Homo sapiens: one gene and its partners. The protein of the gene in region 1 purifies or fractionates together with the protein of each later gene. This does not show direct contact. Each region holds a gene or a part of one and is shown on either strand. Other genes may lie near its edges. The genes, in order: CAV3, MAP7D3, AP1S2, SBDS, ANKRD13C, ENDOD1 and REEP2.

Region 1 (3,457 bases):
GCAACTAGGAGCGGAAGCAGGACTAGAACCAAGGCTGCCTGCGTCCTAGTTCCCAAGCTGTGTGTGGTCCACTTCACCACACTGCCTCCCAAGACCACTGGGCTCGTGGCCAGGCATGAATAATGTCTCCGAAAACCTGACAAGTGCTGTGGAACTTTAATTATATGAGACTTAAATGGGCGTTGCATGAAAAGAAAAAAAGAAAAAAAAAAGGTCAGATAGGATTGGGGGGATACTGGTTTAAACAGGTTTATCTACTGCAGGACATGTCAGAGCCTTTAATGTGCCAAAGTCTATTGAAAATCTCTGAGAGAAATATACAGCATTTCTGAAAGAACCGGACCACAGATGCTAACACCCATCCCCATCCTTTCTTTTTTAATGGCTAAGTTCTGGATAGCACACTCGGAAAAGACAGCCCTAAAGAAGATAAGGGCACTGTGTGTGTGTGTGTGTGTGAGAGAGAGAGAGAGTGTGAGGAGGGAGGAAGTGATACATGCTCTTTCTACTGCATTTTATTTCCATAGTGAGTCCACACACGCACAAATTAGACCTTGTTCCTTCGTCACATCTCCTGAGGGCGAAGGTACCCTCATGTCAAATGGCAGTACTGGGCATTTCAGGGGCTCGGTTAGCCAAAGGGGAGGTTCCGGGAGGCTTGAACCCAGGCCCTTCCCTCAGTGGTACCCTGGAAGGGTCACTGCCCCTGCCAGCCCAAGGGTCATTTTCCTCCATTGGTGCCCATTTTTGTGCTCAGGCAACAGGAGTCACTTAAACATGATCTTCCAAGGAACGTGTACGGTTCCAGCAAACAATAGAATCCGAAGAAGAAAAAGACTCTGTTCTTCACTTACATTTGGCCAAGTGAAGAGACAACCAACTCTCCCTGTGTCTGTTTTTCAGGGCAGTGAAGTATATTTTTGGAGCTGGTCAGGACACAAACCAATCTTACAGGCACGAACAAAATGCAGCATTCCCCAAATGCAGCCAAAACCCTTTACTGGAGCCACCTTCCTAACGCCAGTGGTCACTGGTCACTTTCCTGAGTGCGCGTGGAGAGGTTGGCCCCGGGTGGGAACCGCGTGCTGGTTTATGTTGTTACAGTACAAGTGAACGCAAAGACTTGCAGTAGCTGCCTCTTGGCAAATGATCTTCCCCCACGCCCAGGCATGGGGGCATCATGGTGGGGCTGGGGGAGAGCGAAGGGCCATTGTGCTTCTGTGGCTGGGCCGTCTTTTCTTTCTGGCTTCCCTACACCGTGTGCTCCATCATGGGGTATGGAGCAGTCCCTAAAGAGAAAGAGCTCGCCAGCAGCCCCTGTGAAGAAGTCCCCCGGGGACCAGTCTGGCCCACCACCCCCTGCCCTGCCACCGCTGTTGCCCCACCTGGCTTTAGACCTCCTTCCGCAGCACCACCTTGATGCTGCTGCAGACCTGGCCCAGGGCCGCGAAGAGTGGGTTGCAGAAGGTGCGGATGCAGAGTGAGTAGATGTGGCTGATGCACTGGATCTCGATCAGGTAGCTCTTAATGCATGGCACCACCGCCCAGATGTGGCAGAAGGAGATGCAGGCGAACAGGAAGCCCCAGAGCAGGGCCAGTGGGACGCCCAGCAGCGTGGACAACAGACGGTAGCACCAGTACTTGGAGACAGTGAAGGTGGTGTAGCTCACCTTCCACACGCCGTCAAAGCTGTAGGTGCCCACAGGCTCTGCGATCACGTCTTCAAAATCCACCTGCAGGGGTGGCAAGGGGAAGCCTCAACTCACAGAAGCCACCCGCTTCTCAAGCTTTTGGGTGTGTGCGTGCATGTGTCAGAATCCCCTAGAGGTCAGGTTAACCTTGGTGGCTGGACCCTACCTGTATTAGGCTATTCTTGCATTGCTTTAAAGACATACCTGAGGCTGGGTAATTGATAAAGAAAGGAGGTTTAATTGGCCCATGGGTCTGTGATCTGTGCAGGAATCATGGTGCTGGCATCTGCTTGGCTTCAGGTGAGGCCGCAGGGAGCTTTCAACCATGGCTAGAGAAGGGAGAGCAGGCGTCTCCCCTGGTGAGAGTGGGAGCAAGAGAGAGAGCTGGGCAGGGGGTGGAGTGCCACACTTTACAACAACCAGATCTTATGAGAACTCTCCCACTATTGTGAGGACAGCACTAAGCCACGAGGGATCTGCCTCTGTGATCCGATCACCTCCCACCCGGCCCCACCTCCAATATTGGAGATTATGTTTCACCATGAGGTTTAGAGGGGACACAGATCCAGACCATATCATCGCCCCAGGGATTCCGACTCCCCAAGTCTGGAGTGGGGCCTAAGGCTCTGTATTTCTAACAAGCTCCCTGTTGAGCCCAAGCTGCTGCTGTTCCTAGGCACCGCTGACCAACACAACACGCTCGTTCAACCCCCTCAAGGTGAGCGACTTGCTTAAAGCCAACAGTGACTTAGTGGCAGTGCTATAGTCGCAGCTCTCAAATTCTATTGTTTTATGATCTGAAGGGTGTTGGACGGTCGTATGCATCCTACAGCAATTTACTGAGCACCTGTGGATTGGATGGTGAACAGGCAGAGGTTCCTCACATCGCTTACCTAAGCTCTCTCGAGCCCTGCTATGCATGAAGCACCTTCCTAGCTGCCTACACATGGGTGATGTCACTTAGCATCACTAAGCCTCAGCTGTCTTGTCTGTAAGATGGAGTCAATGAACGTCTTCCAGTGGTATCATGAGGATGAAAGGATGGGAGGCTGTAAAATCCACTGGTCCACAGTGAAACCCTGTCTCTACTAAAAATACAAAAAAAAAAAAAAAAAAAAAAAATTAGCCGGGTATGGCAGCGGGTGTCTGTAGTCCCAGCTACTTGGGAGGCTGAGGAAGGAGAACGGCATAAACCCGGGAGGCGGGGCTTGCAGTGAGCCGAGATTGTGCCACTGCACTCCAGCCTGGGTGACAGAGCGAGACTCCATCTCAAAAAAAAAAAAAAAAAAAAATTCCACTGGTCAATTAAACAGCAGTGAACCAAATTAGCTGCTTCATGACTGGTCTCCCCATGGTTGTTACCAGTACAGCCCGCCAAGTGGGAGGTTGCAGAGCTGTTTGCTAATGCCTGAAACTGTTCTGAGATGTTTTCTTTCTAGCAGTGCTCCTGGGCCATTCAAATTAAAAGGGGGTGGATGCAGGTACAGACTAATCAGATCAACAGGAGGGGCCTGTGTGGTGGCCTGCAGGGCTGAGGCTCCAACTTCAATCTTCCTGGTTAGTTAGTCCCTTTCCCGCCTTGGTTATGGGGAGGGGATCCTCTCCTCTATTGCATCACCAATATTAAAATTACTTTCATTATAAAAAAAATGGCCATATCACAGAGAATTAACAGAATAGAAAAAAGAAAAGAGTCTTGGGTTTGTACTTCTCTATTACTAAAGATATGATTGTTTTGGTGCATTTCTTTCCAGTACAATATTTTC
Region 2 (3,500 bases), on another chromosome or scaffold:
CTTTGCCATGTCTTTTGATTTCTTAATGACCCTGAGAGTATTTAAATAATTGTTAGTATTTATCTTGATTGCTATCATACTCAGCTTGCACTAGTGAGTTTTTATAGTGAAACTTCCTGTGTATAGTAATATAATTTATATCCACACCAGAGTCACTACATCTTCTGTGTTGTTACTATATAGGAATTACACAATTCCACCCCTTTTTAAAGAGAAAAACTAGCCCTCGGGAGCAGAAAAATATTTCAATCAAGTAATAGATTACTTTGCTTGTTAAAAAACACACATACGTGAGAGGAACTCATTCCTTAACTGTCTTTGAGACATGACATCCCCTAAAAGGCCTTCTTTACACGTGCTCACACCCAATCTCTCGTGGGGGTAACAGAGATAATTTAGAGGAGAGTCTGGTGGTTCCCTAGTATTCAGCACTTTCAAATGCTAAATCAGCTCTGTTTATATGAAGCGATGAATAATATTCTTCAAGTTAGAGGTTTTTTTTGTAATTCATAATATTCCCTTCTTTTTCCCAAGCCCATATAAGCATATGGAAAATGTGTGATTATTTCAAATAACACTAAATACTTAAAAGCAAATTCAGTACTGTTGTTATTCCCTGCAGCCAGTGGACAGAGGTTTACATTATAAGGCCCGACATAAAATAGTCCTCAAGATGGAGGAACAAGAAACCTTTGCTAGAATTTGAATGCACACAACTGTACATGAGATTTGCTGCCCACAAAGGAAATCCTTCTAGCAATGACTCACTGGCCTGATGAGACACAGGTGTCACAAAGATCACAGAAAAAGTAAAACATGAGTAAGTATAATTTTCAGGTTTAAAAATCCTGATGTTACAAGTCTTTTAAATAAAGGGCTGACACTAGTGAACACGAACTGATCTGTTCTTATATACCACTCTGGTGCTGAGAGATCAAATCCTGAATGTGAGTTTGGTCTCTGTGCATCCTCCTAGCACACCTTAATGGCACATGATGTATGGAGGCTAAAAAGGACTGTGCCATTTATCCACATACCAGGGTCCTTAGCCATTTACAAGGGCTTGAAATGCTTCCTATGCAGGCAATGAGGCACTTCTGATCCTCACTGAAGAAAGTCAATTGTTCTTTGAGAATTTATAACTTGAGGGTAAAATTTTGACTTTCAAAAATTTGGGCCCCACTCAAGATTTATAGTATAGGAAGGAAGACTTTGTGCTGACCTTTGCTGCATTTCTTCCCGTTGTCTTTCTTCTTCCTCTTTTTCTCTTTGTTCACGAGCAAGGCGGCGCAATTCTGTCAAAATTTTTGTTGCCGCCTCGGCATTCATAATACCTGCAGTACTCTTATTACCAGACTCTAGTTTAAATAAATATGTGCAACAGTTAAGAGAGCTAATCAACTCTCACTCCAACAAAGAAGTGCAACACAATCCAAAACATTAAAATATATATATATGTGCGTAGTCCAAAATTTATAAATCACAAGCAAACTATAGGTGATTATCTAACAGATTTTGTTCAAACTGCACCCCCAACAACAGCAGAAGCATTTTGTTTCTTTTTAACACCTACTTGTTCCAAAATGAAATAATGTACTTCTACTTTCGTTTTAGTGGTTTTGAGATAACTGAATCAACTGACCCCATGGGAAAAGAGTAAGAAATACTGAATATAGAGGAAGACAAGCTTATGCTCGGTCCAAACAAAGGGTACAAATATCTTAAATACTCAAACAAATATGTATCTGGTATACATTTGAGATCTGTGCATCATTTTTACTATATGATTACTATTTAGCTAAACCTTGATAATAGTGTATACATTTGGTTGATCATAGAGTAGCTAACTGTAGATAACAAAACCAAGACTATCAGTAAAATAAGGTGAGTACACAGAGGCATATGATGATATTTTGGTCTATATAACTACTAATTTATTTTAAATAAATCATATGAAAATGAGAAGACATATCAGGAATGAATAATCTGTAATTAAAAGATTGTTTCTGTTACAAAAAATTCACTGTGGAATTCCGTAAAAGAGCAAAATTCCCCAGTGTGTTTTTGAAATTAAGTAATGTCCATGGGTATTAAGAATGCACGTAACAGGCAAAATAGCAATATGGCACTTTCAGGAATACTACACAAATCAAGGGACACCACATTATGGCCTATATATAAAAACGAACCTAAATCTTAGGAAAAACCTGCTCATCCACGAGTGGATGTGCTCTCTCCAAGAACCATCACTATCAGAGCTAGAAGGGATCTCAGGAATCACCTAGACCAAACCTCTCATCCGACCTGTGCTTTTTTTTGATATGGGGTCTCGCTCTCTCATCCAGACTAGAGTGTAAAGGCACTATCACGGCTCACTGCAGCCTCCACCTCCTGGTCTCAGGCAATCCTCCTACCTCAGCCTCCCTACTAGCTGGGACTACAGATGTGTACCACCTTAAGCTAGGTGGTTATGGTATAATATGGCTTACTCTTATCCTCAACCCCCTAACCGAATATATAGCCTACCCTTTCCACATCGGGCTAATTTTTTTTTTTGTGTGTGTATATATATATATATATATATATATATATATTTTTTTTTTTTTTGTAGAAACAGGGGTCTCTCTCCTATGTTGCCTGGGCTGGTCTCAAACTCCTTGGCTCAAGCAATCCTCTCACCTCAGCCTCCCAAAGTGCTGGGATTATAGGCGTGAGCTACCATGCTTGGCCAGACCTATGCTTTTAAAAGCAGTTCCAAAAATGGATTTTTCAAAACAAAGGGGTGAGAAGAAAGCTTTGGCAAGGACAAACAAACAGAGAAGATACATTCCAATGTACCAGAGATTGGTTAGATTCTCTCTTTCTAAAAGGAAAATAATTCCCTAAAGTTCTCTCAATTGGGGAATAAAATGAAGTGAACCTTTCCCAGAATACAGTAAGATTTTCTGTGTTGCTAAGATAAACTTCTTAGTGAAAGAACTTACCTTCATAGATCATATGCCTTTGGCTCAAAGCCTCACATCTGTTAGTGGTTTTAGAAACTGTTTCTTTTTTCTTTTTGACAGTACTTGATGCACTTTGCACAGACAGGGTGTGTTGAATAGGCATTATTTTATAAGGAAAAGAAGTCTGTGGTGACTGTTTTGAAATAAGTGGTAATGGTGATGGAGGGCAGTTCTTTTGGATTTGCCTGCTGAGAAAAAGTAATACACATTTGCTAATTAATTTTCAGTGTACAATTTCATAAAATATAAGATGCTATTATGAGATGACATTATAATCAGGGAATTTTTCTGAAAAATAAATCCCTTTTTACAGGCTTTTTTCCCTTTACATTTGTGTTACCATGCATACTATATTATTTCACTCATCAAACATTGACATGGAATTTGTTCTAGTAAAACGCCTATCAGGAACAGTTGCGAATAAGCTGCTTACTTAGTGCTGATGGGAGACGGCAGACCACAAGCATTTTCAGGAGATGATGACCATTTATAACA
Region 3 (3,500 bases), on another chromosome or scaffold:
AGCAAAGAGAAATGCAAATACTGTTTAGTTTTGCTAACAAAAAAAACCTGGAAGTTTCTACAAAAAGTATAATTAGAAAACACTATCATTTGCTTGGCTACTTTTGCATTTAATGGACATGAGGTAAAAATATGAGCCAATTTGGAATTAAAATGTCATAATCTCATAGTCAACTCCTGATTATCTACACTAATGAAAAAGGGGGTTATCTTAAACAATTTGAAGCAATAGATGGAGAGTTCTCAACTTACTGCTACTTTCAGCCAATCTTTTCCCTTCTTCAAATAGTCTGTCCTCTAAAGGTTTAGACTCCAGTGTTTTAGGGTCCAAAAAGGGCCATTGGGAAGAGGCCTGACCGATAGACCATCTCCAAACTGAACCATCCATCCATAGATAACTGAGTTGACGTGACTGACACATATTCCAGTCAATAAACTGCACATGGATGGACACTACATGACAAGCATGCTTCAGAGTACTTTCTGAAACTGTAAGAATGATGAATGAGACTTCCCCAGCAAGAGCAAAACATGCTAGTGCCTAGTGAAGAGAATAAGTAGCTTACCTCCTGCAGTAGATCAGCCTGCTCAATTGCTTTAAGGACATTTTTCTTGGATGTTTCCTGAACTTCCCCTCCCAAAAGAAACTCATCCAAAATAAAATAAGCCTTCTCAAAATTAAAGATGATATCTAGTTCACAGACCTGAAAAGGAAAAAAAAAAGAAAAAAGAAAAGAAAAAATTGTTAAAACTTGCAGAAGCAGAAGATGCTTATTCACTATCAGGTAGTGAATAAAATCGAACTAGAGTGAATCAATCTTAACTCTTTCTAAAAATGACTAAGTATCACTGGTTTAAGTAAGCTTAATTTCCAAATCTCAAGTACTTGAAAACATATTCCTACAAGCTAAATAAGACTGGGCTCTGCATGTTCCCAATATGGACAACTTAATAATTTCTACTAATAAATAGTCATTCCCACCCTCTCCCGCGGTTAGAATCCCCAAGACAACCAAAAAATAAACTTGTTAGAGAAAAGGTTCCAAAATATACTATGGCATTCAATTTCCTAAAATAAAATACTACTCACACTGCCGAAATACTTGTCAAGTAATTCCACATAACGATGAATTATTTCCAGGGTAATTAGTTCATTGTCCTGATCCTCAATAGCACAGCAAAAATACAGACTAGCATATCTGTAACAAAGTACAAATGTGAAAAAAACTGTTATCCTATAATGATGTTTTCTAAATATATTTTCATATCCTATTATGAAAAGCCCCAAGTTTATACAGTTTATTTCTTCTTTCACGACAGTACAGATTTTTCTCATAGACTACAAAAGTAATAAACGCATAACAGAAATTTTGAAAAGCATAGGCAAGTATAAAGAAAAAATCAAAATAATCATACCACTTAGAATAAGTGATTTTGCCCTTCTTCCTTTCAGGTTCTTTTCTATAAGCATTTTAAAACATAGCAGACCCAGGTTTTTCCTAAGTTTACTTAATTAAAACAAAATATATAGCAGATTAATTCAAACTGTAAGTACAGAGAAGAAAACAAACCTTCCAACTGAAGGAGGACTTGTTGAGGATAATGCCAAGGTGAGGTCAATATTTTGGGATATTTTATTGGAATATGTATAATATATACACAGAGAAGACCTTAAGTCCTACAAGCTCAATAAATTTTCAAAGTGAACTCAACTATATATCAGCACCCACATCAAGAAGCTGAACACTACTGAACCCTGAAACTCCTCTGCTACCCTCTCCCAGTCACAACCTCCCACCCCCAAGGGTAACTATGCTCTTGACTTCTAACAGAATAGAATTGTTTTTAAAAAGGTTTCTAGGATTGCAGAATAAACCATACGAAAAGAACAACAGCTCCACGTTATTACAGAAGTTAGAGAAAGAGAACAGAAAGTTCCTATCACTTAAGGGAAACAGAGGCCTGTTCTCAAATTTACCAAGTTCTACACTGTTGAACTGAAGTGTAGTTTATTTACCCTAGAAGAGGGAATAAGGTTGGGAAACTTATATTCTCCTTCAAATTAGGATTCTAGCATATGGAATCATGTTATGCTTGACCCAAGGAAGCAAAACTTCAACCCTGAGGCATAGCAAGTCCTTTGAGGAGGATTAAAAGGGCATTTTAAAATGGTTTACATGTACTTAAGGCTTTTGAAAAGAAAGAAAATAAAAACCTAAGATAGGCTAAACACAGAACATTTCAGTGGAGATTATAATTTTCACTGAAGATCACTTAAATGATTTTTAGAAAACACAATGGGCAGTTACTGCTCGTAGCATTAATGTAAAATAATACTGTATACAGAATAACACAACCTGTTTTGAGACTCAATGAATTCTTGCTCCTTAGTATGAAAATAACTAGTATTCACACAACAGCATTAATTTCATTATTAAAACCATTTCATCTTATTTGATGTTTTCAACAGCAAGTACTATCTTTCATCCTTGATCACAGATTAAAAAAAGACAAAAAAAAAATGAGGCTTAAGAGTACAGCGCCTACAAGTGCTAGTACTGGGATAAGAAACCTGATCTTTTGACCTTAACTCCAGGCCTTTTTCCACTGTATCATACAAACTCACTTGGCATATATATCATGAGTTTGTGCATGTCTACTCTACCTGACTTCCACACTCAGTAAGTTATTTAAAATGGTGGAGCTACTGCAGTCTTATTGAGAGGAGGTATTCACATGTGTTCATTTATCATCATTGTGAAGGGAATAAGTCATGGAAGACAAAACAGGGCATCAATGCCAACTTTAACAAAGTGCTCCCTCTCTTTCCCATCGTTACTGTTTTTGTTTGTCTATTTAAAAGAGAATAGAGTATTCCAACTCTCCATCCTCCCTAACCCATGCTCATTAAATAGAACTTTGAATTTGAGGAAACTGATAAATGACACATAAGATTCCCTGATTTAAGAAAACTAAACATTAAAGGGACTGACATAAAAATGGTAGATTAAAAACCAGATATGACTAGCTGATAGGAACAGAATGCTAAATAATTTATTATACAAAGTTTACTAACAGTTTCAAGTAAAATTCCTTTTATTTAAGATTTCCTCATGCTACTATTAAACAAGCTAATGCTCGTACCATCCTCGCTCCTTATCCACAGTACTGCCTCTTTACTTACAAATAAAAAGCACTTAAACACTAGTCAAAGGTCCTAAACTGCATGAATCACTTGGAAGCATTAATTTAAAAATCATCAGAAACAATGTGTCTAAGCCCCAGCCAGTAATGTTTACTTTCACTCGGAATGGAAAAAGAATAATCAAATTAATGAATTCTTTGGTGTAGGTGAACAGATAGCTATCAGGATAATAATGTACCTCTTTCCAGAAAGCTTAGGGCAGGAAAAAAACAGAAACATAATAATTAAGTACCATTCACTGAATCCTCGCCCTACATGAGACATTAAATGTTAGCTAAGGCTTTTGCATATTTTAC
Region 4 (2,704 bases), on another chromosome or scaffold:
CCGAGTTTCACTCTGTCACCTAGACTGGAGTGCAGTGGCACATTCTCAGCTCATTGCAACCTCTGCCTCCTGGGTTCAAGTGATTCTCCTGCTTCAGCCTCCCGAGTAGCTGGGACTACAGGCGTGCACCACCATGCCTGGCTAATTTTTGTATTTTTAGTAGAGACAGGGTTTCACCATGTGGGTCAGGCTGGTCTCAAACTCCTGACCTCAGGTGATCCGCCTGCCTCGGCCTCCCAAAGTGTTGGGATTGCAGGTGTGAGTCACCTCCCCTGGCCTTGAAGTAGATTTTTAAAAGCTTGCATCTTGTCCATTTAAGTGTTTAAATACTAAAATAATTCTTCCCAATTACATCCCAAGTGTTAGCAAAAATTTTTCAGGTGTTTACAAGTACAGGCCCTGTTCTAAGCACTCTTCATATGGACTTATTCAGTTCTCCTGACAACTCCCTAACCCTACCACAGACACAGGCAGAGAAAAGAAAGGGAGTTAGGAAGTTGTCTAGAAACACAAGCCATAGTTTAATAAACATAAGAGTGGTTTTATTGATTACATACAATTTTAGCTATATTAATATATATTATAAACTTTAAGAATTAGAAATAAGTGACTTTTATTTTTTAACCAAGAATAATCTAAGTTATGGCAGCATGTTCAATGAAAGGTAAGTCCGGCACAATTTTTCTATATCTGTTTCTCAGATAATCAGGAACATCATCCAAGCTTTACATTACGATACCATAATGACCCTCAGAACACAAGTTCCATTAAGTAGAAATGAAGCATCATATGTTTTCTTTTTTAGGAAAGACCCCCCCTTTTGTTGTATAGACATACCCCTAATAATCTTACTCTACTGTACAAATAACTTTTCACCCACAAGAGCTGCCTCAAGTAACTTTCATTTTGGAAAGCTATCAAGGCATGAGACAGAGTAGCAAAATGCCACTCTGGACTTTGCATCTTGGAGTTTCAATTTTGCTTTAGGATTTAGACCCCAGTTTATAATTAAAACCAAATCATTCCCACATTATTATACTTATGTAGGAAAGCCTTGCTGTGTCCACTGTTAACACAAAGATAGAAAATGTCAAATAGTTTAAGCAAGTATTTGGCAGACCACAGACATGAAACAGTGCCGTCGGAAACGGAAACACTTTAGTGTTTTAGAGGTGAAGAGATTGATGGGTGTCATTCAAATTTCTCATCTCCTTCTTCTACATCTTTCAGATTGAGTACTTCCAAAGAACCTTTGCCTTTAGTTTCCTTTTTTATTAGCTCATCAATTTCTCGGAAGCAGCCCGGGTCAATCAGACATACCTGAAACATTTAACGTAGCAGATTACCACATGAGGATGAGCAAGACACAGAATAAACTCAGCTTTAACTTCCTTTGAGGCAAGCACAATGCTGTCCAGATCTCTAATAATACCACAGTTCTATGGTGCAATAGATAAGACAATGGGTAGGGCGGCACACTGGGTTCCAGTTTAGCCTCTGCCCTCAAGTGTCCATGTAGCCCCCTGTGACAAGGCATTAATCCCTATGTTTAAACACTTATTCTGATTCTTCAGCTGTAAATGGAAGGGACAAACTAGAAAACTCTGATTCTTCTCATACTAAAATTTAGCATTACATTTTATAGCTCAGTAAAGTCACCTCCACGTATGAAGGAGAAAAAGCAATGTGAAGACTTATGTAGACACCATGTGTATGTTAATTTATTTTTTTTTGAGATAGAGTGCAGTGGTGTGATCTTGGCTCACTGCAGCCTCCGCCTCCCAGGTTCAAGTGATTCTCCTGCCTCAGCCTCCCAAGAAACTGGGATTACAGGAACCCACCACCACACCTGGCTTATTTTTTGTATTTTTAGTAGAGATAGGGTTTCACCATGTTATCTGCTCACCTTGGCCTCCCAAAGTGCTGGGATTACAGGCACGAGCCACTGTGCCTGGCCCATGTGTACAGTTTTGCAAAGATTTTAGAACTTCAAGTAGTGTCAGATGAGTTAGTTCACATCTACAGTGGATACTCACATACTCAACACTTCTCTACAGCTCATTTACTTTTAAAAAGAAGCTGCAGACAGGGCGCGGTGGCTCAAGCCTGTAATCCCAGCACTTTGGGAGGCCGAGGCGGGTGGATCACCTGAGGTCGGGAGTTCGAGACCAGCCTGACCAACATGGAGAGACCCCGTCTCTACTAAAAATACAAAATTAGCTGGGCGAGGTGGCACATGCCTGTAATCCCAGCTACTCGGGAGGCTGAGGCAGGAGAATCGCTTGAACCCGGGAGGCAGAGGTTGCAGTGAGCTGAGATCACGCCATTGCACTCTAGCTTGGGCAATAAGAGTGAAACCCTGTCTCAAAAATAAATAAATAAATAAATAAATAAATAAGCTGCAAAGCCTTGAAAACATGAATTTGTAGACAGCTCAATTTACACTGTGTTTGAAGCTGTGGGGTGAGGTCATAAGGACATAATGGTTTCGCTGCTTCTTTAAAATGTTCTGTGTTTAGTGTCACCAGGTTCACACACTAATATCCTCTGGAAACACCCTCACAGACATACCCCAAACAATGCTTTATCAGGCTTCTAGGGATTCCTTTCCAGTCAAGTTGACACCTAAAATTACATCCACAATTCCACCCCTTATCAACTTGGCACCCAGACTCATCTCTTTAAACCATTTTTAATTTTCAAA
Region 5 (3,500 bases), on another chromosome or scaffold:
TGGCTCATGCCTGTAATCCTAGCACTTCGGGAGGTCAAGGCAGGTGGATCACTTGAGGTGAGGGGTTCAAGACCAGCCTGGCCTATATGGTGAAACCCCATCTCTACTAAAAATACAAAAATTAGCCAGGCGTAGTGGCTCGCACCTGTAATCCTAGCCACTCAGGAAGCTGAGGCAGGAGAATCACCTGAACCCAGGAGGCAGAGATTGCAGTGACCTGAGATCACACCACTGCACTCCATGACCCAAGATCACACCACTGCACTCCAGCCTGGGAAACAGAGCGACTCTATGTCTCAAGAAAACAAAACAAAACAAAAACCTCATAAATTAAAAAAAAATTTTTTTTCAATTGCTAATGAAAACCTAACAGGACTATGGAGCAAAAAGACAATAAGTGAAAGACTAATATGAATAATAAGATGTTAATAACATTGAGAGGGTCTCATTCAAGAAATGTGGTTTTACATATAATTAGTGTAAGATGTTAATGAGCCATATATTAGAGTTGTTAAAATCAAGGATTGCTAAGACACAAAATTGAGTTAGAATCCCAGCTCCAATACCTGGTAGTTGTGTGAATTTGGGCAAGTTACTTTCTATTATGTCAACTTAACTCACTTGCAAAATGGGAATTGGGCCACTAACTCATAGTTAAAAATTAATGGAGATAACGTATATAAAAAACTTAGTGCAGGTCAGGTGTGGTGCCTCATGCCTATAATCCTGGCACTTTGGGAGGCCAAGGCAGGTTGATCCCTTGAGCTCAGGAGTTTGAGACTAGCCTGGGCAGCATGGCAAAACCCCATCTCTACAAAAAATACAAAAAAAAAAAGTAGCCAGGCATGGTGGCACACATCTGTGGTCCCAGCTACTTGAAGGGCCAAGGTGGGAGGATTCCTTGAGCCCAGGACATGGAGGCTGCAGTGAGCCGAGATCATGCCACTGCACTCCGGCCTACAGGACAGAACATGACTCTGTCTCAAAAGAAATTAAAAAAGAGAGAGAGAGAGGGAAGCAGTAAATGGAGGAAAAGCTTTTTCTCTACCCTCCGTTTTCTGCCGAACTACAGAGTATAAATTTTGCTTCACTGGAGATAACTCTATACTCTTACTAGCCCAGTGACAGCACCAGAGGAATTTGCAAACAAACCTTACTCCTTTCCTGTCCTTGGAAACCTAAAATCACTTTCATTTGTCCTGTCATTTCTCTATAAATTTATTGTTCTTTGTTGAAGATGCTATATAAGTAGAGTTCTAAGCCACTATTTTGAGCTACTTTTTTTTTTTTTTTTTTTTTTTGAGACATAGTCTTGCTCTGTTACCCAGGCTGGAGTGCAGTGGCACAATCTCGGTTCACTGCAACCTCCGCCTCCCAGGTTCAAGCAATATTTCTGCCTCAGCCTCCTGAGTTGGGATTACAGGTGTGCATCATCAAGCCCAGCTAATTTTTGTATTTTTAATAGAGATGGGGTTTCACCATGTTGGCTGGGCTGGTCTCAAACTCCTGGCCTCAAGTGATCTGCCCAACTCAGCCTCCCAAAGTGCTGGGATTACAGGCATAAGCCACTGTGATCAGCCCTTGAGTTACTTTTCCTTGGGGTTTCTTGTGTGGTGTGCGGCACGCATTAATAAACTTGTTTGCTTTTCCCTTATAAATCTGTCTTTTGGTACGAGAGTCCATCTCAACTAAGAACTAAGTTTGGAAGAGGTAAAGTTTAGTTTCCCTTATGGTATAATGGAGGCCAAAAGAAAAGACTGTTTCAATATCACACTACAGAGACTTTGAAGAGAAAGAAGCCTGAAAAAGCCATAAATTTTGTTGGTTAGAAGTCATTGATGATCTCTGAGTAGCAGCCGAGGGATGTGGAAAGAAAGGAAACAGAGTTTTTTAGTATCAGGCAAGATGAAAGACAATGTTCTTTCCTTGAGAAGCTTATCAAGAGACACAAAAAGTAAATACTTATAATTGAGGGTGACAGGGGCTATGATATAATTGAGGGTGACAGGGGCTACAGAATGATATAAACATGCACAGAAGAGGTTTATGACAGACTAGGGTAGCCAAAAGACGTGGACTGGTTGACTCCTGAATTGAGGAGTCTAAAAAAGAACAAAAGAACTGGTTGAAGGAACTGGGGAAAGCAGAATGGTGAGAGAAAGCATGACATACTGGGAAATTGCAAGTGTAGTGTGTCTAGTTGTATGAGTAGTATACATGAAGATTAGTAGTAAGAGAAAAGTGGCCAGACACAGAAGAGAAAAAGTAGCCTGAAAGGGTTTTACATATGAAGTAGATCACATTTTACTCAGGAAGCAATGGACAAATATTTTGAGCAATACAATATAGTAGCTAAAACACCAACTGTGGAGCCAGAGTGATCCAATTCTGGCTTCGACAATGACTAGCTGACTTCAAACAAATTACTCAACCTCTTTTGCCTCAGTTCTGTCAACTATATAACCTCAGAGGGTTTACTGTGATGATAAAAATGGGCTGTTAAATGTAAAGTGCTTAAAATAGTGCCTCACGCATAGCAAGTACTGTATACATTTTAGTTACTGAGCATAGCCATTACATGATTCAATCTATTTCAGGGTGATTACTCTGGTGGCAGTGTATTTAGGAAGCTATCTCAGTAATCCAAATGAGAAATGATAAGGGCATGTTGTTTAAAAATGGAAGGACAGAAAATAGACTAAATAGACTCAAGAGATCCTTAGGATTTTGTGATTGATCAGATATAGAGATAACAGGAAAGCTAAGAAGTCTAAGAAGAAATTTCAGGTTGCCAGCTGGGGTAAATAAGGAGATAATGGTGTTACTACCTAAGACAGAGAAAAGAGGAAGGAGGGAAGAAAGCATTATCTGATTTAGACACACTAAATTTTAGACATCTATGTTTATCCAAGTAGAGGTAGGCAAAAGCACTATAGATGTGGTGATATGACGGAAGAATAGAGTTAAAGGTATATATCTGGTTGACAGTTACCAGTGTTTATGTACTCACTGATGAGATGTCAGAGATTGCTAGTTGTCTCCCCAGTATCTGTTCTCCCATTAGTCTTTGTGAAAGAACCTCTCTTCCAAATTTTTGGATGAGCACATGACTTCCTAGAATAGACTCCTTTTCTAGAAATCCTTGCAGCTAGGTGTTATCATGTGACTAAATTCTTTTTTTTTTTTTTTTTTTTTTTTGAGACAGGGTCTTGCTCTGTCACCTACACTGGAGTGCAGTAACTCAATCACACCAAACTGCAGCCATGACCTCCTGGACTCAAGTGATCCTCCCACCCCAGCCTCCTGAGGAGCTGGGACTACAGATGCATGCCACCATGTTCAGCTTGTTTTTACTTTTTTTTTGTAGAGACAGAGTCTCACTATGTTGCCCAGGCTGGTCTTGAACTCCTGAGCTCAAGCAATCCTCCCACCTTGGCCTCCCAAAGTGCTGGGATTACAGGCATGAGTCACCATGCCCGGGTTAAATTCTAACCAATGGA
Region 6 (3,500 bases), on another chromosome or scaffold:
AGATAACAGCAAGCAGATTTCCTGAAACCAGTGCTGCCATCTCACAAACATAGAGGGAAGGCACATTTACCAAGCTGTGATAAAGTCGGTATAGGGACAAATGCAAGAACCTGCAAAGATGAAGGACTTTAACTTACTAAACAGTCATAAAGGAAAAAGGAATTTTGGCACGTTCAAGGAGGTATACGTTCTGAGTTAGAGCAAAGTCCCTCCTCTTGTCCCAAAGTAGGACTTACTGCATTACTGGGTTATTAAGTTTAAGTGTTCTGCTGGTCTTCCTTCCTGGGAGCCAAGCTGGCTGCAGAGAAGGAGCTCCTGAACAGACTAGGGCTGGATGATGGATGTGTGGGTCTGCCACCTCTGCTCAAGGAGCGGAGCTCTGGAGGGTGTAGTCGGCCTGGGCACCTCCTTCCCACCCCTAGGGACAGCTGGCATTGAGACAGGAGATGGGCTCTCCTCAGGCTCATGCACCACATCCAATCCAACAGCCTGTCTGGCAGCAATGTCTCCATACGCCCAGAGATGCAAGACTCTATCCCCTACCCTCTTATCTCCGCTACTCACTGAGATGCAGGGGACAAAATCTGTTGCTCAACAGAGTTAACACAGTTTTTGGGTGATCCATTTTTCCCAGCTCTAACCTGGTGCCTTATGGAAAATGTCTGCTTGCATAAGGATAATAGGAAGAGCTCAAGATGGATCAGTATAGAACAAGACTGTACAAGGGGGCAGAGCACCCTCGGCCCAATGGAGTACTTGCAATAACCCCACCCTTCCTATAGCCACAAAGGTACACCTGGAGGTGGTGAGCCTCTGATATTCATGGGCGTGTGACTGCCAGAGCTAGAAACACACCCTCTATAAAATCCTGGTAAATGAACATGTGAACTTTTAAAAGATAAACTTCATTCAAGAGCATTCAATAGGAGCTCACCCAACACATCAACAGGTTTGCAACAGAAGCAGTCCATGTGTGCTCTGGTGTCAGACAGCTCAGGTTCAAACCCGAGCCCCACCTCTTCTTAGCTGTGTAAAAATGCAATAGTAGTTTAACCTCTCTGGGCCTGTTTCCTCCTCTAAGAAGGATAATAATAGTACCTATTTCTGACGATGCTGAGGATTACATGAAATTACATGTGAAAAAAAAAACACTAGAAAAGTGCCTCCTGCCATATGATAAGCATCCAATGAGCTCTAGACTGTACTTACTTGAAGGTCAATTGAATACCTGAAGGTATCTCGCACTCAGAGTGCCCAAAACGGAGTACCTTTTCCTCCTACAGCTGTATCAAAGTATAACTGATATACAAAGAATTGTACATATTTAATGTGATGAATTAAATGTGCAATAAATATGTAATAACCCATCACATAATTAATGTGCTGGGTTTGGATGTATGCAAATACCCATGATACAATCACAACAACCAAGGAGGGAGACATGTCCAACACCTCCCATACTTTCCTTGTGTCCTTTTGTTTGTTTTGTGTGCGTATTAAGAAAACTTAATATGAAATCTACTCTCTTAACAAATTTTGAAGTGCACAATACAATATCATCAACTATAGGCATTACATTGTACAGCAGATCTCTAGAACTGATTTATCCCATGTAACTGAAACTTTATACCCATTAAACAAGAGCTCCTCATCTTCCCCACCCCTCAGCCCCTGGTAGCCACTATAGGTTGAGCATCTCAGATCTGAAAATCCAAAATCCAATATGTTCCAAAATCCAAAGCTTTTTGAGTACTGACATGACATTCAAAGGAAATGCTCATTAAAGCATTTCAGATTTCAGATTTCCAGATTTGGGAGGTTCAGCCACTAATTCCAAAATCCAAAAAAAAATCTTCAAACTGAAACACTTCTGGTCCCAAGCATTTCAGATTAGGGATACTCAACCAGTATTATATTCTTGCTCTTATGAACAAAAGCGAGTTCTTGATATGGCCCCCAAACAGCCCCTCCTTTTGTATCCTTGTCTTATTCATGACAACTCCATTCTTCTGATTATTCAGGCCCAAACCCTTGGAGTCATCTCTTCCCTTTCTCTCACTCCAAAGACTATGAGCTCTTTCTTCACAATATATCCAGAATATACAGTGCTATCATCTTGATCCAAGATACTACTGTCTTGTCAGATCACTGAAACCTCCTAACTGGTTTCTTTGCTTCTGCCCTTAACACCACATGTCTATTCTCAATGCAGCAGCCAAAATGGTCCTATTTAAATGTAAGCCAGATCACATCGAAGCTCTCTGCTCAGAACCCTGCACAATTGCTTCCCACTTCACACACAGTAAAACCCCAATATTTTACAAATAGCTCAGAAGAATCTAAATGATCTGCCGTCTCCTTCCCCACTTCTCTGACCTCATCTCCTGCTACTCTCATTTACTCTTCTCTAGCCAAACCAGCCTCTTAGTTCTTCCTCAACACACTCATGCCTCCAGGCCTTTGCAATTACCATTCCCTTTACCCAGAACGTTTTCCCCCTCTATAGATGCCTGCATAATTGGCTTTCTTACTTCTTTCATGTCTATACCCAAAAGTCAACTCCTCAGTGATCTCTTCCCTGGATGGAAACCTTGTTTTAAACTTCACCTTTTCCTTGATATCTCATAGCCTCCTTCCTTGCTTTTTCTCCTTAACACTTATCACTGTCTAATATGCCTTTTTTTTTTTTTTGAAACAGGGTCTTACTCTGTCCCCCAGACTGGAGTGCAGTGGCATGATCTCAGCTCACCACAGCCTCTACCTCCCAGGCCCAAATGATCCTCCCACCTTAGCCTCCATGAGTAGTTGGGACTACAGGTGCATGCCAGCACTCCTCGCTAATTTTTGTAGAGATGGGTTTTTGCCATGTTGCCCAGGCTGGTCTCGAACTCTTAGGCTCAAATGATCAGACCGCCTTGGCCTCCCAAAGTAGTGGGATTACAGGCATGAGCCACCATGCTTGGCACCTTGTCTTTTATTTATTTATTTTATAATCTATATTCTCTATTAGATATAAACCCTATGAGAGTAGGTATTTTTGTCTGTAACCACTGCTCTCTTTCCAGGACTTAGAATAGTGCCTCACACATAGCAGATGCTCAATAAAGATTTGTTGACTAAAATGAATTGACAGAGGGCTCAGGGCTTTCTTAAAGCATTAGGTGTCCCTGCCAACTGGAAGTCAATAAAAACTGAAGACCAATCAGCCCTTAAAGTATAAGTCAACTGAAACATGTAATTACATTTATATTTTCAAATAATATTTCAGCCATCTGTTTATTCTACAAAGTAAAATGTACCCGTATTTTCAGCTTTGATTAAAAATATAAACTACCCTCTGTTTGACCTTTTGATTGAGCCACACTTCTGTTCAGCACTAGGTCAATGAAGCATGACTGGAATATTAAACGGTGCTTCTATTCTTGGTTCAGCCTATGAGTCAGTTTCTTTTTCATTTCTCCTTCCTTTCAGTGGCCAAATAGATATATCGACAGGCAATG
Region 7 (2,704 bases), on another chromosome or scaffold:
CGATCTCCTATGGGATTGGAGGGGAAGGGAGAAGAGGAGAGGTCCTGCCCTACCCTTGTTCACCCCTGGACAGAGGCCCCTGCCTGCTCCGGGAGGCCACGGCAGCCCTGCCAAGTCACTTTGGGCTCTGGGCCCCACAGGGAGGGCCAGTCTGTATGAGGCTGCAGGCTCTGGACTGCCTTGGCTGGGGGCAGGCTGGGAGGTGAGCTGAGAGTGGGGGCAAACCTTCTCCTTGTTGGACAGCGTTGGGTGCACGAACTTGCGGTAGAGCACGCTGGAGCCCTTGGTGTAAGGGGACAGCAGCCATATCACGAAGGCGATCTTCAGTTCAAAGTAGAAGGGGAACCTGTTGGGACAGGGGCAAGCGCAGAGTACAGGGCAGGGAGTTGGGAGGTGCCCTGTGTCCAGCAGCACCGGCCCCATGTGTGACCCTGCACAGCCCCTCACTCTTAGTGCACTGGGGTCCCCATGGGGCTCATGGGACTGCTCCTTTCTAATCTGAAAGGGTCTGGAGGGCTCAGCTGAAGCTCCAAACAGGAAGGTAAGCAGTGACACTAGAAGGAATTTCCCCCAGCAGCGACTCTCCTGGCCTCATCCTCTCCCCAAGCCCCAGCCCTCTCACTCCTAGAGAAAACCCCCCTTCCTCTGCCCTAGGGTCAACACCAAGGGAAACTCTTGACTGTGCAGGCCTACACCTGGGTCTTCACTCCTTCCCTTTCTGCCCTCCCTATCATCGAGAGGCCTGGGACTTCTCTAGCTTGCTCTGGACCCTCCTGCCCCACCGTGACACGACCCTCACTTCTCCAGGATTGCCCTTCAGTCCCCATAGTGCCTTCTCCTCTGGTCACAAACTCCTTCAGGTCACCTATGTCCTCACAAAGTCTTCATCAAAGCTCTCTCTTTTGCTGTGTCAAGACACATGTATAGGCCTGGCACAGTGGCCTGTAATCTCCCAGCACTTTGGGAGCCAAGGTGGGAGGATCATCTGAGCCCAGGAGTTCAAGACCAGCCTGACAACACAGCAAAACCCCATCTCTACAAAAAATAAAAAATAAGCCAGGTGTGGTGGCGTGTGCCTGTGGTCCCAGCTACTCAGGAGGTTGAGGTGGGAGGATCACTTGAGCCCAGGAGGTAGAGGCTGCAGTGAGCCGAGATCACACCACTGCACTCCAACCTGAATGACAGAGTGAGATTCTATCTCAGAAAAAGAAAAAAAAGGCATCTATATTTACTACCCTCAGTTTTGTTTTTCACCTCACCACCCTTGCCCTACTCTCATCTTTTTTTTTTTTTTTTTTTTGAGACAGAGTCTCGTTCTTGTTGCCCAGGCCGGAGTGCAATGGCACAATCTTGGCTCACTGCAACCTCTGCCTCCTGGGTTCAAGCAATTCTTCTGCCTCAGCCTCCTGAGTAGTTGGGATTACAGGCATGTGCCACCACGCCCGGCTAATTTTGTATTTTTAGTAGATAAGGGGTTTCACCATGTTGGTCAGGCTGGTCTCGAACTCCTGACCTCAGGTGATCTGCCCCCCCTTGGCCTCCCAAAGTGCTGTGATTATGGGCATGAGCCACCGCACCTGGCCAATTTTTTTTTTAATAGGCAGGTCTTGCTATGTTGCCCAGGCTGATCTCAAACTCCTAGGCTCAAGTGATCCTCCTGCCTTGGCTTCCCAAAGTGCCAGGATTACAAGCAGGAGCCACCATGCCCGGCCTTTACCCTCAATTTTTTTTTTTTTGAGACTGAGTCTTGCTCTGTTGCCAGGCTGGAGTGCAGTGGCACGATCTCGGCTCACGGCAACCTCCGCCTCCTGGGTTCAAGCGATTCTCCTGTCTCAGCCTCCCAAGTAGCTGGGATTACAAGTAGGTGCCATAATACCTAGCTATTTTTTTTTTTTTTTTTGAGACAGAATCTCACCCTGTTGCCCAGACTGGAGTGCAGTGGCTCGATCTCGACTCACTGCAAGCTCCGCCTCCTGGGTTCACACCGTTCTCCTGCCTCAGCCTCCAGAGTAGCTGGGACTACAGACACCCGCCACCACGCCCGGCTAATTTTTTGTGTTTTGTTTTTTAGTAGAGATGGGGTTTCACCGTATTGGACAGGATGCTCTCCATCTCCTGACTTCATGATCCGCCCACCTCGGCCTCCCAAAGTGCTGGGATTACAGGTGTGAGCCACTGCGCCCTGCCATGCCTAGCTAATTTTTGTATTTTTAGTAGAGACGGGGTTTCACCGTGTTGGCCAGGATGGTCTCGATCTCCTGACCTCGTGATCTGCCTGCCTTGGCCTCCCAAAGTGCTGGGATTACAGGCGTGAGCCACCACACCCGGCCTTTACCCTCAATTTTTAACCCATCTCTCCATCTCTTTCCTCTTCTAAAACTATTTTTCTCAAATGCAAGGGTCTTATCTATAAATGTAATGATCTCTTGTCCTCTCCCCCTTGGTAAAATTCTCTTCTTGAGTTCCGATGAACTGTGTTATTAGTCCCCTCTTCCAAGAGGTATCTGATCATTCAGTAAACATTTTTGAGTTCCTGCTGTGAATATACAGATGATTAAGACATATTCCCTGTCCTCAAAGTGCTCATACATACGTAGTCTAGTACAGCCTGGAAAATGCCTTGGAAATGCAAGTATCCAGCATTTATAGGAGTGAATCATATGCCTATTTTACAAATAAGGAAACTGAGGCCTCGAGAGCTGTG

Evidence for each region.
Region 2: the proteins of CAV3 (region 1) and MAP7D3 purify together in Homo sapiens (affinity purification with mass spectrometry; 2 studies listed by BioGRID and IntAct, with this or other methods). This does not show direct contact.
Region 3: the proteins of CAV3 (region 1) and AP1S2 purify together in Homo sapiens (affinity purification with mass spectrometry; 2 studies listed by BioGRID and IntAct, with this or other methods). This does not show direct contact.
Region 4: the proteins of CAV3 (region 1) and SBDS purify together in Homo sapiens (affinity purification with mass spectrometry; 2 studies listed by BioGRID and IntAct, with this or other methods). This does not show direct contact.
Region 5: the proteins of CAV3 (region 1) and ANKRD13C purify together in Homo sapiens (affinity purification with mass spectrometry; 2 studies listed by BioGRID and IntAct, with this or other methods). This does not show direct contact.
Region 6: the proteins of CAV3 (region 1) and ENDOD1 purify together in Homo sapiens (affinity purification with mass spectrometry; 2 studies listed by BioGRID and IntAct, with this or other methods). This does not show direct contact.
Region 7: the proteins of CAV3 (region 1) and REEP2 purify together in Homo sapiens (affinity purification with mass spectrometry; 2 studies listed by BioGRID and IntAct, with this or other methods). This does not show direct contact.

What each region holds. Positions count from the first base shown.
Region 1 is NC_000003.12:8,743,802-8,747,258, reverse strand, and holds the end of CAV3 (caveolin-3), read right to left. Parts: intron 1,734-3,457; coding exon 1,392-1,733; 3' UTR 501-1,391; downstream 1-500. UniProt on the Homo sapiens protein: May act as a scaffolding protein within caveolar membranes. Interacts directly with G-protein alpha subunits and can functionally regulate their activity. May also regulate voltage-gated potassium channels.
Region 2 is NC_000023.11:136,227,401-136,230,900, forward strand, and holds part of MAP7D3 (MAP7 domain-containing protein 3), read right to left. Parts: coding exon 3,439-3,500; intron 3,194-3,438; coding exon 2,985-3,193; intron 1,359-2,984; coding exon 1,223-1,358; intron 32-1,222; coding exon 1-31. UniProt on the Homo sapiens protein: Promotes the assembly and stability of microtubules.
Region 3 is NC_000023.11:15,844,814-15,848,313, forward strand, and holds part of AP1S2 (AP-1 complex subunit sigma-2), read right to left. Parts: intron 1,199-3,500; coding exon 1,090-1,198; intron 704-1,089; coding exon 566-703; intron 1-565. UniProt on the Homo sapiens protein: Subunit of clathrin-associated adaptor protein complex 1 that plays a role in protein sorting in the late-Golgi/trans-Golgi network (TGN) and/or endosomes.
Region 4 is NC_000007.14:66,987,180-66,989,883, forward strand, and holds the end of SBDS (ribosome maturation protein SBDS), read right to left. Parts: intron 1,321-2,704; coding exon 1,192-1,320; 3' UTR 501-1,191; downstream 1-500. UniProt on the Homo sapiens protein: Required for the assembly of mature ribosomes and ribosome biogenesis.
Region 5 is NC_000001.11:70,278,223-70,281,722, forward strand, and holds part of ANKRD13C (ankyrin repeat domain-containing protein 13C), read right to left. Parts: intron 1-3,500. UniProt on the Homo sapiens protein: Acts as a molecular chaperone for G protein-coupled receptors, regulating their biogenesis and exit from the ER.
Region 6 is NC_000011.10:95,096,346-95,099,845, reverse strand, and holds part of ENDOD1 (endonuclease domain-containing 1 protein precursor), read right to left. Parts: intron 1-3,500. UniProt on the Homo sapiens protein: May act as a DNase and a RNase. Plays a role in the modulation of innate immune signaling through the cGAS-STING pathway by interacting with RNF26.
Region 7 is NC_000005.10:138,442,057-138,444,760, reverse strand, and holds part of REEP2 (receptor expression-enhancing protein 2), read right to left. Parts: intron 347-2,704; coding exon 226-346; intron 8-225; coding exon 1-7. UniProt on the Homo sapiens protein: Required for endoplasmic reticulum (ER) network formation, shaping and remodeling. May enhance the cell surface expression of odorant receptors.